Homo sapiens: one gene and its partner. The protein of the gene in region 1 purifies or fractionates together with the protein of each later gene. This does not show direct contact. Each region holds a gene or a part of one and is shown on either strand. Other genes may lie near its edges.

The links. Proteins that work in one complex are often made in the same cells at the same time.
Region 2: the proteins of ANKS3 (region 1) and NEK8 purify together in Homo sapiens (affinity purification with mass spectrometry; 2 studies listed by BioGRID and IntAct, with this or other methods). This does not show direct contact.

What each region holds. Positions count from the first base shown.
Region 1 is NC_000016.10:4,724,253-4,731,282, forward strand, and holds part of ANKS3 (ankyrin repeat and SAM domain-containing protein 3), read right to left. Parts: intron 5,900-7,030; coding exon of another isoform or gene 5,898-5,899; coding exon 5,728-5,897; intron 2,926-5,727; coding exon 2,727-2,925; intron 2,603-2,726; exon of another isoform or gene 2,529-2,602; coding exon 2,407-2,528; intron 580-2,406; coding exon 498-579; intron 1-497. UniProt on the Homo sapiens protein: May be involved in vasopressin signaling in the kidney.
Region 2 is NC_000017.11:28,738,758-28,743,955, forward strand, and holds the end of NEK8 (serine/threonine-protein kinase Nek8), read left to right. Parts: intron 1-326; coding exon 327-444; intron 445-1,705; coding exon 1,706-1,856; intron 1,857-2,064; coding exon 2,065-2,228; intron 2,229-2,320; coding exon 2,321-2,479; intron 2,480-2,655; coding exon 2,656-2,814; intron 2,815-3,201; coding exon 3,202-3,230; 3' UTR 3,231-4,698; downstream 4,699-5,198. UniProt on the Homo sapiens protein: Required for renal tubular integrity. May regulate local cytoskeletal structure in kidney tubule epithelial cells. May regulate ciliary biogenesis through targeting of proteins to the cilia.

The DNA.
Region 1 (7,030 bases):
AGATGTCTATAAGATGTCTCTAAGTTACAGACTATACGTAGAATCCCACTTTGTTCAAAACACAAAGCAATGTGCACACACTTGCCTACAGACACATCTTTCCACAGCAGAGGAAAAGTCCTAGGGCAGCTCTTTCTCAAACCAAGTGGGCATCAGGGAGGTTGAAAAAGAGAGGAGGATCTCTGCCTTCTTATTCTATATAATTTTTCTAAGTGACAGGATTATGAGTGCTATTTACTTTTAAAATATTTTTCCATAATTTTCAGATAGTATTTTCAAAATTATTACAGGAATAGGTGTCTATTTCTACTCACCACTGTATCCTTAATGCCTAAGCACCACTCAACACCGGGCGTCAATAGATAATGAAAATGTGTTGAATAAATGAATGAAAGTTATTTCTGTGCAAAGGAAAATTCTGTAATAGCTTATACTTCAGTAATATGATTCCTCATTTGCCGTGACTACATTACATGCTAATAATCAGGGTCACTTACGTGATTCAGAAAATACTGCACGATTATCTCATGGCCAGCAGCAGCTGCTTCCATCAAGGGAGTAAATCCACATATCGGCTCCCTGCAAGATGTGGGCCACAGTCAGATGATTGGAAGAGACAAGTTCCGCCAGGCAAAAACTCCCTGCTGAAGATAAACCCTGAGCAGTGCACGAGTCACCGATCCCTAAGCGTAGAACACTGTCCCTTTCCAGAATTAACAGGTGACATGAGAACAGTGAATATAACACATCAGCTCCATTTACTCTTCTGGTGTCTGTCCCCAGGGCTGGTCTTTGTCCTAAAGACAGATGTCTGCCTGTCGTCCCACCTGTTGGCTATTCCCACTGGCTACCTCTGAAATCTCCACCTCAATCATATTCAAAAAGCTGTTCTAATTCCTCACAGAAAGCCAGCATCTCCCATCCATTCATCCAAATCCTGGCTTCAAGTTCAACGTCCTCCATGAACCCACTCTGAAAAGTTCAAGTACTAATGATCTAAGCTATCTTTGCCACGCTTAGCTCCTGAAGCTTGCTTTTCATGCTTGGTTATGCTAACTCGGCACTGTCTTCAGAGGGCTTCCAAATCCCTCCTTGTCTCATGCTGGTTTGGAAGTCAGGAACCATGCATGGGAAATGCTGGTTTTCATCCATCTTAAGACACACAGTGTTCATATTTTAACATCTCTCAAGTCAGAAAACATCTTTAAATCAACAGGCGAGTTGAATGTTAATTAGTAGCATATTTTTTCTTTCTTAGTGGCATACAAAATTATCAGGTGTCTTAGAATGAATGACAGCCAGGGTGGGTGCTGCATTGGTACCCGCTGCGTTTGTTCAAAGGTGATTATTATCATGACAAGCTTTAGACAACAATCCCACTTCCAACTTATAAAACTCATGACTGGTTTTTTGTTTGTTTTTGAGACAGAGTTTTGCTCTTGTTGCTCAGGCTGGAGTGCAGTGGCACGATCTCTCAGTTCACTGCAACCTCTGCCTTCTGGTTTCAAGTGATTCTCCCGCCTCAGACTCCCGAGTAGCTGGGATTACAGGCACCTGCCACCACGCCCAGCTAATTTTTGTATTTTTAGTAGAGACGGGGTTTCACCATGTTGGCCAGACTGGTCTCGAACTCCTGACCTCATGATCTGCCCGCCTTGGCCTCCCAGAGTGCTAGGATTACAGGTGTGAGCCACTGAGCCCGGCCAAAACTCATGACTGTTGTTTTTGTTTTTTTTTTTTTGAGATGGAGTCTTGCTCTGTCACCCAGGCTGGAGTGCAGTGGTGCAATCTCGGCTCACTGCAAGCTCCACCTCCCGGGTTCACACCATTCTCTTGCCTCAGCCTCCCGAGTAGCTGGGACTACAGGCGCCCGTCACCATGCCCAGCTAATTTTTTCGTATTTTTAGTAGAGATGGGGTTTCACCATGTTAGCCAGGATGGTCTCGATCTCCTGACCTCGTGATCTGCCTACCTCGGCCTCCCAAAGAGCTGGGATCACAGGCGTGAGCCACCACGCCCGGCCTCATGACTGTTTCAAAGCATCACCTCACCTCATCCATACAAAAAGCAAGAAAATGGAAGGAATTTGCATGTAATGTATGACATTTAAATGCCATTCAGTATGTTAGGCCCCTGGCATACAATAAAACATGTAATTCTTACAACTGTATGACCCAGGTGGGTTTCAGATAAAGAAAAGGAAGCTGAGAGGGCTTGAAGAGATGCATCTCACAGATGTACGAAAAGGCCTGTGCCTGGAAGGACTCTGGTCCTACCCCTCATCTTGAGCCTCTCGTGCCGAAGCAGGGTGGCCCTAAACTCTGGTTAGCTGCCTCCAGAGCCACCCTCCTTAGAGTCAGATGACACCTAGGCCACTCCTGTGGCCACTAAAGATGTGGCAATCACCTCACGTTGGCATTGGCTCCACTGTCCAAGAGGAACCTGACCATGTGCTGGTGCCCGGCGCTGGTACAGTGGAAGAGGGCTGTCCAGCCCTGGATGTCTTTCATTTCTAGCTCTGCACCTTGCTTCAAGAGAACACAGAACGTGCGTTACGGCCTCATCTCCTCTGCGTGGGGCGGGCGCCCTCCAGGCGGCCATGCTGCAAGAATCAGAAGTGATTACACGAGCACACACGAACACCGTGGCCTGCAGTGGTTCGCATCTCTGTCAGGGTGGCCACGGAGCCCCTCAGGTTTCTGGGCCTGAGTTCCCTCGTAGCTCACCTGGAGAAGAAAGTAGGCGATGCTCTCGTTGCCACAGCTGGAGGCCAGCATCAGTGGAGTCTGCCCTTCTGGGGTCGGCACATTCACACTCACCCCCGCCTCAAGCAGCAGGTGCACGATTGTGTCGTGGCCAATGTAGGAGGCATACATCAGCGGGGTCCAGCCACCACCATTCTTCTTATTCAAATCTAACTCTCTCCTAAACAAACGCAAGATATGCTAGACATGGCCAGCCGCCTCGCATGTGGGGTTCACCAAAGCTGGTGGCGAGGCTAGGCCAGGCGGGATGAGTTGACAGGAAGCAGAAGTTATCTGCCACCCTGGACGTTGTGGGGATTGGAGGCAGGCAGGCAGAAAAATGCTGACAGTTGCTCGTACACTGCCTTGTGAGGCCCTGAGCCTTCGTCTCCTTGCTCTGATTTCGCATCCTCCTAGCCCAAGGCCAGCTATGCTCTTTCACACCACCAGATAGGCAGATGGCACTCAACCAGGGAATATGTGGCAATGTGTGAAGGCATTTTTGGTTCTCACAACTGGGCAGGGAAGGGCTGCTGGAGGCCAAGGCTGCCGCTAAACATCCCACAGTGTCCAGGACAGCCCCCACAGCAAAGAATGATCCAGCCTGGATTGTCAACACAGCCACAGTTGAAAAACCCTGACCACCACAGGCCTGGCATCTACTAGCCCACTGCTGGGTGGAGAGGAGCAGTGAGGAAAGAAGGGACTCCACCGTGGACAAGTCCCACCGCCACTGATTCATCCTTTGTCACCTCACCTTAAAGAAACATTCTTGAAAAATCTGTGACCAAAGAATCCCATCTTTCTCACTGATTGCTGTTAAAATTCTGGCAATGCATTTTCCCATGGGAAAAAACTGTGGGCTTCCTAGCTGCGACTCTGGGGTTGGGACAAGGGAGTCACATTTAAAATAATACCCACTTGCATGGTTACCTGGGATCCTACATGGTTAACGCCCACAGGCCTTCTTTCCCTTCCCCAGTTCTTGCCTGCAGAGGGGATAACAACTGGTGACTGAACCCCAGGATCTGTCCCTTTTACGGGATTCACTTTTTTGTTGTTTTTTTGAGACAGAGTCTCGCTCTGTCGCCCAGGCTGGAGTGCAGTGGCGCGATCTCGGCTCACTGCAAGCTCCGCCTCCCAAGTTCACGCCATTCTCCTGCCTCAGCCTCCCAAGTAGCTGGGACTACAGGCGCCCGCCACTACGCCCAGCTAGTTTTTTGTATTTTTAGTAGAGATGGGGTTTCACCGTGTTAGCCAGGATGGTCTCGATCTCCTGACCTCGTGATCCACCCGCCTTAGCCTCCCAAAGTGCTGGATTACAGGCGTGAGCCACCGCGCCCAGCCGGGATTCACATATTAGACCACAGCAGGCAACTACCTTCCATTGCCTGGCAGCCCTCAGTGACTCTGGGATGCACACCTGGGCAGCCATTCCAGAAGGTCCTGATACCAGGGTTCAGTGGCAGCCCCTGGCCAGGGGGGCTGCATGGAGATGCCTCTGCAGCAGGGCTCGAATGCACCCAGCTCGTCCTAACACTATCTTCCTTTACACAACAGCAGAGCATCTCCCTGGGGCTCTCTTACCACTCCTCGTTCAGCCCCACCCCTTCCTTCTGATGCCCCCAGCTCCCCTCAGGCCCCATCCTGTGCTTACTATCAGCAAGCCTCCACCTCAGCTAGTGTCAAAATCCCATCACAACACAAACGCCTCCCCCTGCTCCTCTATGGAGCGGTTATGGACTCTGCATCTTAACAGGACACCCAAAGACTTAAGAGCCTGAGAATTCCAAACGTGACCCTTTGAGGGGCCGTACTGACTGCATACCCAGCTGCCTATGCCTAGAGCCTCCTGTGGAGGGAGCGCAACAGACCACCCTGTACCAAGGTGCACCAGCACTCCATGGGCTGGGTATGTCTAAGTGAGGGCCACAACTTGGGAACCGGAGACCTGGGGCTTCAGCAATGCTTTGCTTTGGCTCACTGGGAACTGGAAGAGGCACGCAGAGAGAGGAAGAGAGGTCGCTGCACCACAATATCAAATGAGAACCAGGAGACAGAGTTAGGCTGTGTGTGGAACATAAGGGGGTGGAAGTGAGGAGACGACCCTTTTCCAAAAACAAGATGATCACATCCTACTATGGGCAAGACGCAGCCATGGACCCTGCCAGGGGCTTTATATTGTCTCTAACTATTGTACACAGATTAGCAAAGGGCAGGTGGGCAGTGACGTCGGGAGGTCATTCCCCAGAGGCACTGAAAGCCCAGCCTCTCTCCTCCTCCATGGCAGAAGCTAGAGGGGAACAGGGATCACAGGGATCGAATGAACCCTCCGGGAAAAGAAGGCCAGGGATCACTTTCTTTTTTCTTTTTTTTGTTTTTGAGACAGAGTCTCACTCTGTTGCCCAGGCTAGAGTGCAGTGGCGCAATCTCAGCTCACTGTAACCTCCACCTCCCGGGTTCAAGCGATTCTCCTGCCTCAGCCTCCTGAGTAGCTGGGATTACAGGTACATGCCACCACACCCAGCTAACTTTTATATTTTTAGTAGAGATGGGGTTTCATCATGTTATCCAGAATGGTCTCAAACTCCTGACCTCAAGTGACCCGCCCATCTCAGCCTCCCAAAGTGCTGGAATTACAAGTGTGAGCCACCGCACCAGGCCATCACTTTCTGTCTTTATTTTTATTTTGCTTGTTTGTTTGGGCATTTCTGCAATTAGTGAATAAAATTAGTCTGGTTAAAGAATGACTGTTTATAAGCTTCTGATCAAAGTTTACTCCCTCTTTTTCTTCCTAGGAATAAAAACGGCCTCTTTGTCAGGGCTCAGCATCAATACTTACTGACAGCTGCCTGAGATAAGCAGGTTAACCTATTCTACACGCATTAAACATCCACAACTGTGTGCAAAGCCCCATCACGTGGGATCGAAGCCATCACTGCGCTGCTCAAAATGTGAGAGGAAGTTCCCCGAGATCTCTTACCGCTGCACACACTCCTTCACCACTTCATACTGGCCAATGGAAGCAGCTGTGTGAAGATCCAGGGGGACATCCAGCTCCTCCCCGCTGACCTGTGTCCCGAGCCCGTGCCACATGGACAAGCTGCGGTTCAGGAGTTCCGGCTCGCTGGCTTCATCGCTGAGCTCGGACATCACTGAGGAGGAAGGCCCAAGGGTTAGATCTTTCCTGGCTGGTTGTTCCAGGGCATGAAACAGGCTGGTCCTGCCCCTGCTACACCACTGCACTAGCAGACTGATAACCCAGTGCAGTCAACCCCGGGAGTAACTCAGACAAATTTATTTGCTGAAATAATGTATGCTTTGGGCAGTCCCAACCATGCTAAATCTGGTGAGCCTGCTATCACACCAGTAAAGAGGAGCACATATGGTGAGGCATTAACTGTGGAGTACCTGCTCCTCCTTCCAACCGCAGGCACCAGGTAAAAGAGAATTCTCCACCAACTCTAGGAACCTGACAACCTCTTGGATGGGCAGTGAAGAAATGCTAATTGGGTTGTTTAACCCAATCAGTTCCTTGATGTGGTGGGGAAGAACCCTGGATTTGGGGTTTGATCAAAATTCAGCTTGGACCCGGTGCGGTGGCTCACACCTGTAATCCCAGCACTTTGGGAGGCCAAGGTGGGCAGATCACTTGAGGTCAAGAGTTCAAGACCAGCCTGGCCAACATGGTGAAATCCTGTCTCTACTAAAAATACAAAAATTAGCTGGGCATGAAGGCCAGCTACTCGGGAGGCTGAGGTAGGAGCATCACTTGAACTGAGGAGGCGGAGGTTGCGGTGAGCCAAGATCACGCCATTGCACTCCAGCCTGGGAAACAGAGCAAGACTTTGTCTCCAAAAACAAAACAAAAAAAAAAAACAACAAAAAAGCAGCTCTGCTACTTAGCAACTCCAATCCCTAGTGCCTCACTGTCTAACGGGGACATATCTAAAAAGGCTGCTATTATGATACATAAAAGAATGGATAAACAAACGGTGGCACATCCATATAATGGATGCTACTCAGCATTAAACACAAGGATCCAACAGTTGACATGCAACACGTGAATGAATTTCAAATGATTTACGCTAAATGGAAGAAGCCTGCCTACAGTATAATTTCACTTACATGACATTCTGGAAAAGGCAAAATTAAAGGGTTGGAGGTTGGGGCAGAGAGGGAATTTGGGGGACGATAGACCTGTATGACTGTGACGGTGGATCTGTGACTCCATGCCTTTATGAAACCACAGAACTGAACACCAAAATGAATTTTACTGTATGTAA
Region 2 (5,198 bases), on another chromosome or scaffold:
CATATACCTTGGGAAGGGGAAGTCGGGGGATGGCGGGGAGCCCACATCTGTGAGTTGACACCAGATTGGGGGCAGGGGAGTTCCCAGCAACCACAGGTTCCTCTAGCTTCCCAGCTGCACCTGCTCTGGGCCACCTACATCGGGGAAAGTACAGAAAAACCAGGCTTCCCCAATGGTTGCCCACCTGGCAGTGTGTATGGCTGGATTTAAAGACACAGCCACCTCCTGAGAATGTGTAGCCTCCAGCTTTGTCCCTACAGGGGGTGTTGAAGCCAGATGGCTCCAGACCCTTTGCCCAGTTTCTCCTTGCTTCCTCTCCTCTCTAGCCCACCATTGTGGAGGCTTTGCTGGGCTATGAAATGGTGCAGGTGGCCTGTGGGGCCTCTCACGTGCTGGCCCTGTCCACTGAGCGAGAACTATTTGCCTGGGGCCGTGGAGACAGCGGTAAGCTCCAGCCTTTAGGCCCCATCTCACAGCATCCTCAGCCATGACTTGCTCCCCTTCATACCCACCTTCCACCTCACAGCACATTCTCTCTTCCCTCTTTTCTCTCAAATTCTCTTCATTCATTCAACAAACCTTTATTTTACACCGACTATGTGCACACCCTGTGCTGGGTGCTGAGATGAGATGGAGATGTGGCTTCCTTCAGGTGTTTATGAGGTAATGAAGGAAATTTCATTCATCCACCTAGTTTTTTATTTTATTTTGAGATGGAGTCTCGCTCTGTTACCCAGGCTAGAGTGCAGTGGCGTGATCTCAGCTCACTGCAACCTCCACCACCGGGTTCAAGCGAATCTCCTGCCTCAGCCTCCCAAGTAGCTGGCATTACAGGCACCCGCCACCGCGCCCAGCAAATTTTTGTATTTTTAGTAGAGACAGGGTTTCACCATCTTGGCCAGGCTGGTCTCGAACTCCTGACCTCGTGATCCACATGCCTCAGCCTCCCAAAGTGCTGGGATTACAGGCGTGAGCCACCACGCCTGGCCCATCCACTAATTTTTTTTATTGAGGTCCTCTTTGGGTCAGGCATCAGGCTGGCCACTGAAACTAGAGATGACACTGATGGGTTCTTGTCTTCCTGGAGGACTCAGTCTAGTGGGAGAAAGATGACATTGCCAGCATGCCAGAGAACAGATAGCATCAGGGCTACACCCCAGTGCAGAGGCGTGGAATTCAGTGAACAGTAATGTCAACTGGAGGAGAGAGATGTCATTTGAACAGGGCTTTAAAGGAGGAGGATTTTGAGCCGGCGTGGTGGCTCACGCCTGTAATCCCAGCACTTTGGGAGGCCGAGGCAGGTGGATCACAAGGTCAGGAGTTCAAGACCAGCCTGGCCAACATGGTAAAACCCCGTCTCTACTAAAAATAAAAAAATTAGCTGGGCATGGTGGTGCATGCCTGTAATCCCGGCTACTCAGGAGGCTGAGGCAGGAGAATCGCTTGAACCCAGGAGGCAGAGGTTGCAGTGAGTGAAGATCATACCCTTGTACTCCAGCCTTGGCGACAGAGTGAGACTCAGTCTCGAAAAATAAAAATAAAAAATAAAGAAGGAGGATTTTAACCAGCAGAGGGGCCTAGGAAAGGCATTTGGGACTGAGAGAACAGAGAACTCATGCTGTTCCCTCCCCTCAGTGGGCCCTCCTCATTCGGGCATCACCCCCACTAAAGCTCAAATTAACTCCTTCTGGGTTTCTTCTTGTAGGCAGACTGGGGCTAGGCACCAGGGAGTCCCACAGCTGCCCCCAGCAGGTGCCCATGCCCCCAGGACAGGAAGCTCAGCGAGTTGTATGTGGTATCGATTCCTCCATGATCCTCACTGTGCCTGGCCAAGCCCTAGCCTGTGGGAGCAACAGGTGAATAGATCATCAGGATGACTAACCTGCCCCTGGCTCTCCTTGGCTGCAAGTGCTCCGTCCATCATTGCCTACCTTTCACCAAAGACCAGAATTGAGGGGGTTGAGGGTGCTATTGGTTCAACCCAGGGTGGGATCTGTCTCCTGGTGCACCAGCTCCTGCCCAAACTGTCTGTCAGTTGGATTTGGCTTCTGGCTCTGCCCTCAGGTTCAACAAGCTGGGCCTGGACCACCTCTCCCTGGGGGAGGAGCCTGTCCCCCACCAGCAAGTGGAGGAGGCCCTGAGCTTCACACTACTAGGCTCTGCACCCCTGGACCAGGAGCCTCTGCTGAGTATAGACCTGGGCACTGCTCACTCAGCTGCTGTGACTGGTGAGGAGGACTTGGGCTCTGGAGGTCAGAGGGGGACTCACGGTCTCCTTGGTACCCTGTTGAAGCACCCCTTTCCTTCCTCTCCCCCATAGCCTCGGGTGATTGCTACACTTTTGGCAGCAATCAGCACGGACAGTTGGGCACCAATACTCGCCGAGGCAGTCGGGCACCCTGTAAGGTCCAAGGCCTTGAGGGCATCAAGATGGCAATGGTAGCCTGTGGGGATGCCTTCACTGTAGCTATTGGGGCAGGTGAGGACTGAGCATGGTGGGGGCAGACAGTGCCATGAGCAGTGGGGGGTGGGGGTTGCTATTCAGGGCCACTGGACTCTGGAGCCTCCCAGGGGCCATCCTGGCAATGTGGGAGGGGAGATCCTGCTCGGGCTGTGCCCACTTCCCACTTCCCTCCTGGGGATTCTTCCTGGCAGAGAGCGAAGTGTACTCTTGGGGCAAAGGGGCGCGAGGTCGATTGGGAAGGAGGGATGAGGATGCCGGACTCCCTCGGCCAGTGCAGTTGGATGAGACACACCCTTACACGGTGACTTCCGTGTCCTGTTGCCATGGAAACACCCTCCTGGCTGTTCGATGTGAGTTGTAACTTTTCCCACTTCACCACACAGCCCAGCTGGCCCCTGTCCACACTCCCATCCCCAGTGTTCACAGATGGCCACATCACCAAAAGCATCTTTAGCCCCCAGATAAAAAAAGCAGAAGCTGCGGTTGAAAAGCTTCAAGCTTCCTGCCTGGGGTGGCCAAGGCTGGTGCTTCTTGGGCCTCATGGAAGGGCTGCCTCCACTGCTCCCCAGGGCTCACATGCATTCTTTCTCCTACTGCTGAGTCCCGTTGATGCTGAAACTCTCTTTCTGGCCTAACAGGGTCCAGAATCCAGGGCCCAGTGGGAGTGGGAGGTGGGTGATGATTTCTGGAGGCACTGCCCTCAGAAGCTGCAAGGGTTTCTCTTCGGTACCCTCCAGCGGTCACAGATGAGCCGGTCCCCCCCTGAGGCACCCGGATTCACCTCTGGACCACCCTGATATTGCTTCTCCTCTGAATGCTCTGAAAAGTGCAGGTGCCCAAGGCATGACTTGCAGCTGTCTCCTGGATTGTGTCATCATGGGGTATCAGGGCTGGCAAAACCCCTGCTCTGCTTTTGGCCTTGGATATGGAAACCTCAACCACTTTGTTCTCCTACCACCTCTTTGCCCTTCCTACCCCTTCCTCCCTTCAGTCAGTGTCCCCAGGGTCCAGCCTGGCTAGAGTTAGAAGGCAGACCTAGCCTTTGGAAGCAGGGTGGCCTCCAGAGCCTTGCCATAAAAAGGCTGAAGGCAGCCGGGCGCAGTGGCTCACGCCTGTAATCCCAGCACTTTGGGAGGCTGAGGCGGGCGGATCACGAGGTCAGGAGATCGAGACCATCCTGGCTAACGTGGTGAAACCCCATCTCTACTAAAAATACAAAAAAATTAGCTGGGCGTGGTGGCACGCGCCTGTAGTCCCAGCTGCTCAGGAGGCTGAGGCAGGAGAATGGCGTAAACCCCTCCAGCCTGGGCGACAGAACCAGACTCCGTCTCAAAAAAAAAAAAAAAACAAAAAAGGCTGAAGGCAGCTGTAGCTCCACACAGACCCTACCCTTTCCCCTAGCCCAGTTAGAAAATAAGTCTGGGCCGGCGGCGGTGGCTCACACCTGCATAGGCAGTGCTTTGGCCAGGAGGATCCCTTGATCCCTTGTGGCCAGGAGTTGGGAGACCAGCCTGGGGACCATAGCGAGACCGCTGTCTCCACCAAAAAAAAAAAAAAAGAAGAAAATAAGGCTGGGTGCGGTGGCTCACGCCTGTAATTCCAGCACTTTGGGAGGCCAAGGCGGGCGGATCACTTGAGGTCAGTAGACTGAGGCCAGCCTGGCCAACATGGTGAAACCCCGTCTCTACTAAAAATACAAAAATTAACCAGGCATGGTGACGGGCGCCTGTAATCCCAGCTACTCTGGAGGCTAAGGCAAGAGAATCCCTTGAACCCGGGAGGTGAAGTTTGCAGTGAGCCGAGATCGCACCACTGCACTCCAGCCTGGATGACAGAGCAAGTCTCCCTCTCAAAAAAAAAAAAAAAAAAAAAAAAAAAAAAGTATTTGGTGCTTACCGGGACTCTATCTCCATACTTTGGAGCAGGGCAAGCCAGGGCCTGCCTGGACTGGCCATTAGGCCTGCCTAGCTTCTGCATAGCCCGGGGCTGGGCGGTCCCCGGGAGTGCTGCCACCTCCCCTACACTTTCATCCTGAGGCAGGATTTGCTAGACGTCGGCTTGCCTCTCTTCCCCAGCAGGAGGGCAGGAGTCACTAAGTGCTGCAGAAAAGATCCGCGCTGGAGATTGCCCGTCCCCCCCATGCCTTTCCCCAGAAACAGTTGAGAGAATGGGTAGCTGGTGGGACCAGACCGGTTTCCCAGAGGACAGGAAGGCCAATAAAAATATCAGCTGCCTGCCTGGAGTGTGGTGTCTTCAAGGGTGGGGGTGGCGACCAGGCACCCCAGGACTGGGCTGGGCCCGACCTCGGTGGCAGGGCTGCGGCCAAGGGAGGAATGTGGGCGCAGCCGGAGGCTGGGGCCGAGGTTCCTCTGGCCCAGCGCCCAGTCCAGCCTCCCCGCCCCAGCTGGGCTCCCCGGAGCTGGTTGCCAGGCTTCGGCTGCCTAGCACCTGGAAGCTGGGGCCACGGTTCCTGGGCTGCTCACGGCCCCGGAGGCCGAGCTGTTGCCTCTGGAGAAGAAAACCTTTGTGGCGCGGCCCGTCCCCTTTTCCGACCCGCACTTCCCCGGGGCCCGCGGGCTCTGGGGAGAAGCGGAGCCACGATCTCTGTCCCCCAGGGGAAAGAAAAGCCCATGATCCCGTGGGTGGGCGAGACTGGCGGTCACCAGACCCAAAAACCATGCACTCGGGGGTGGGCGGGGCCGCGAGGGCGCGCATTAGGACCGCGCGGCCGCGG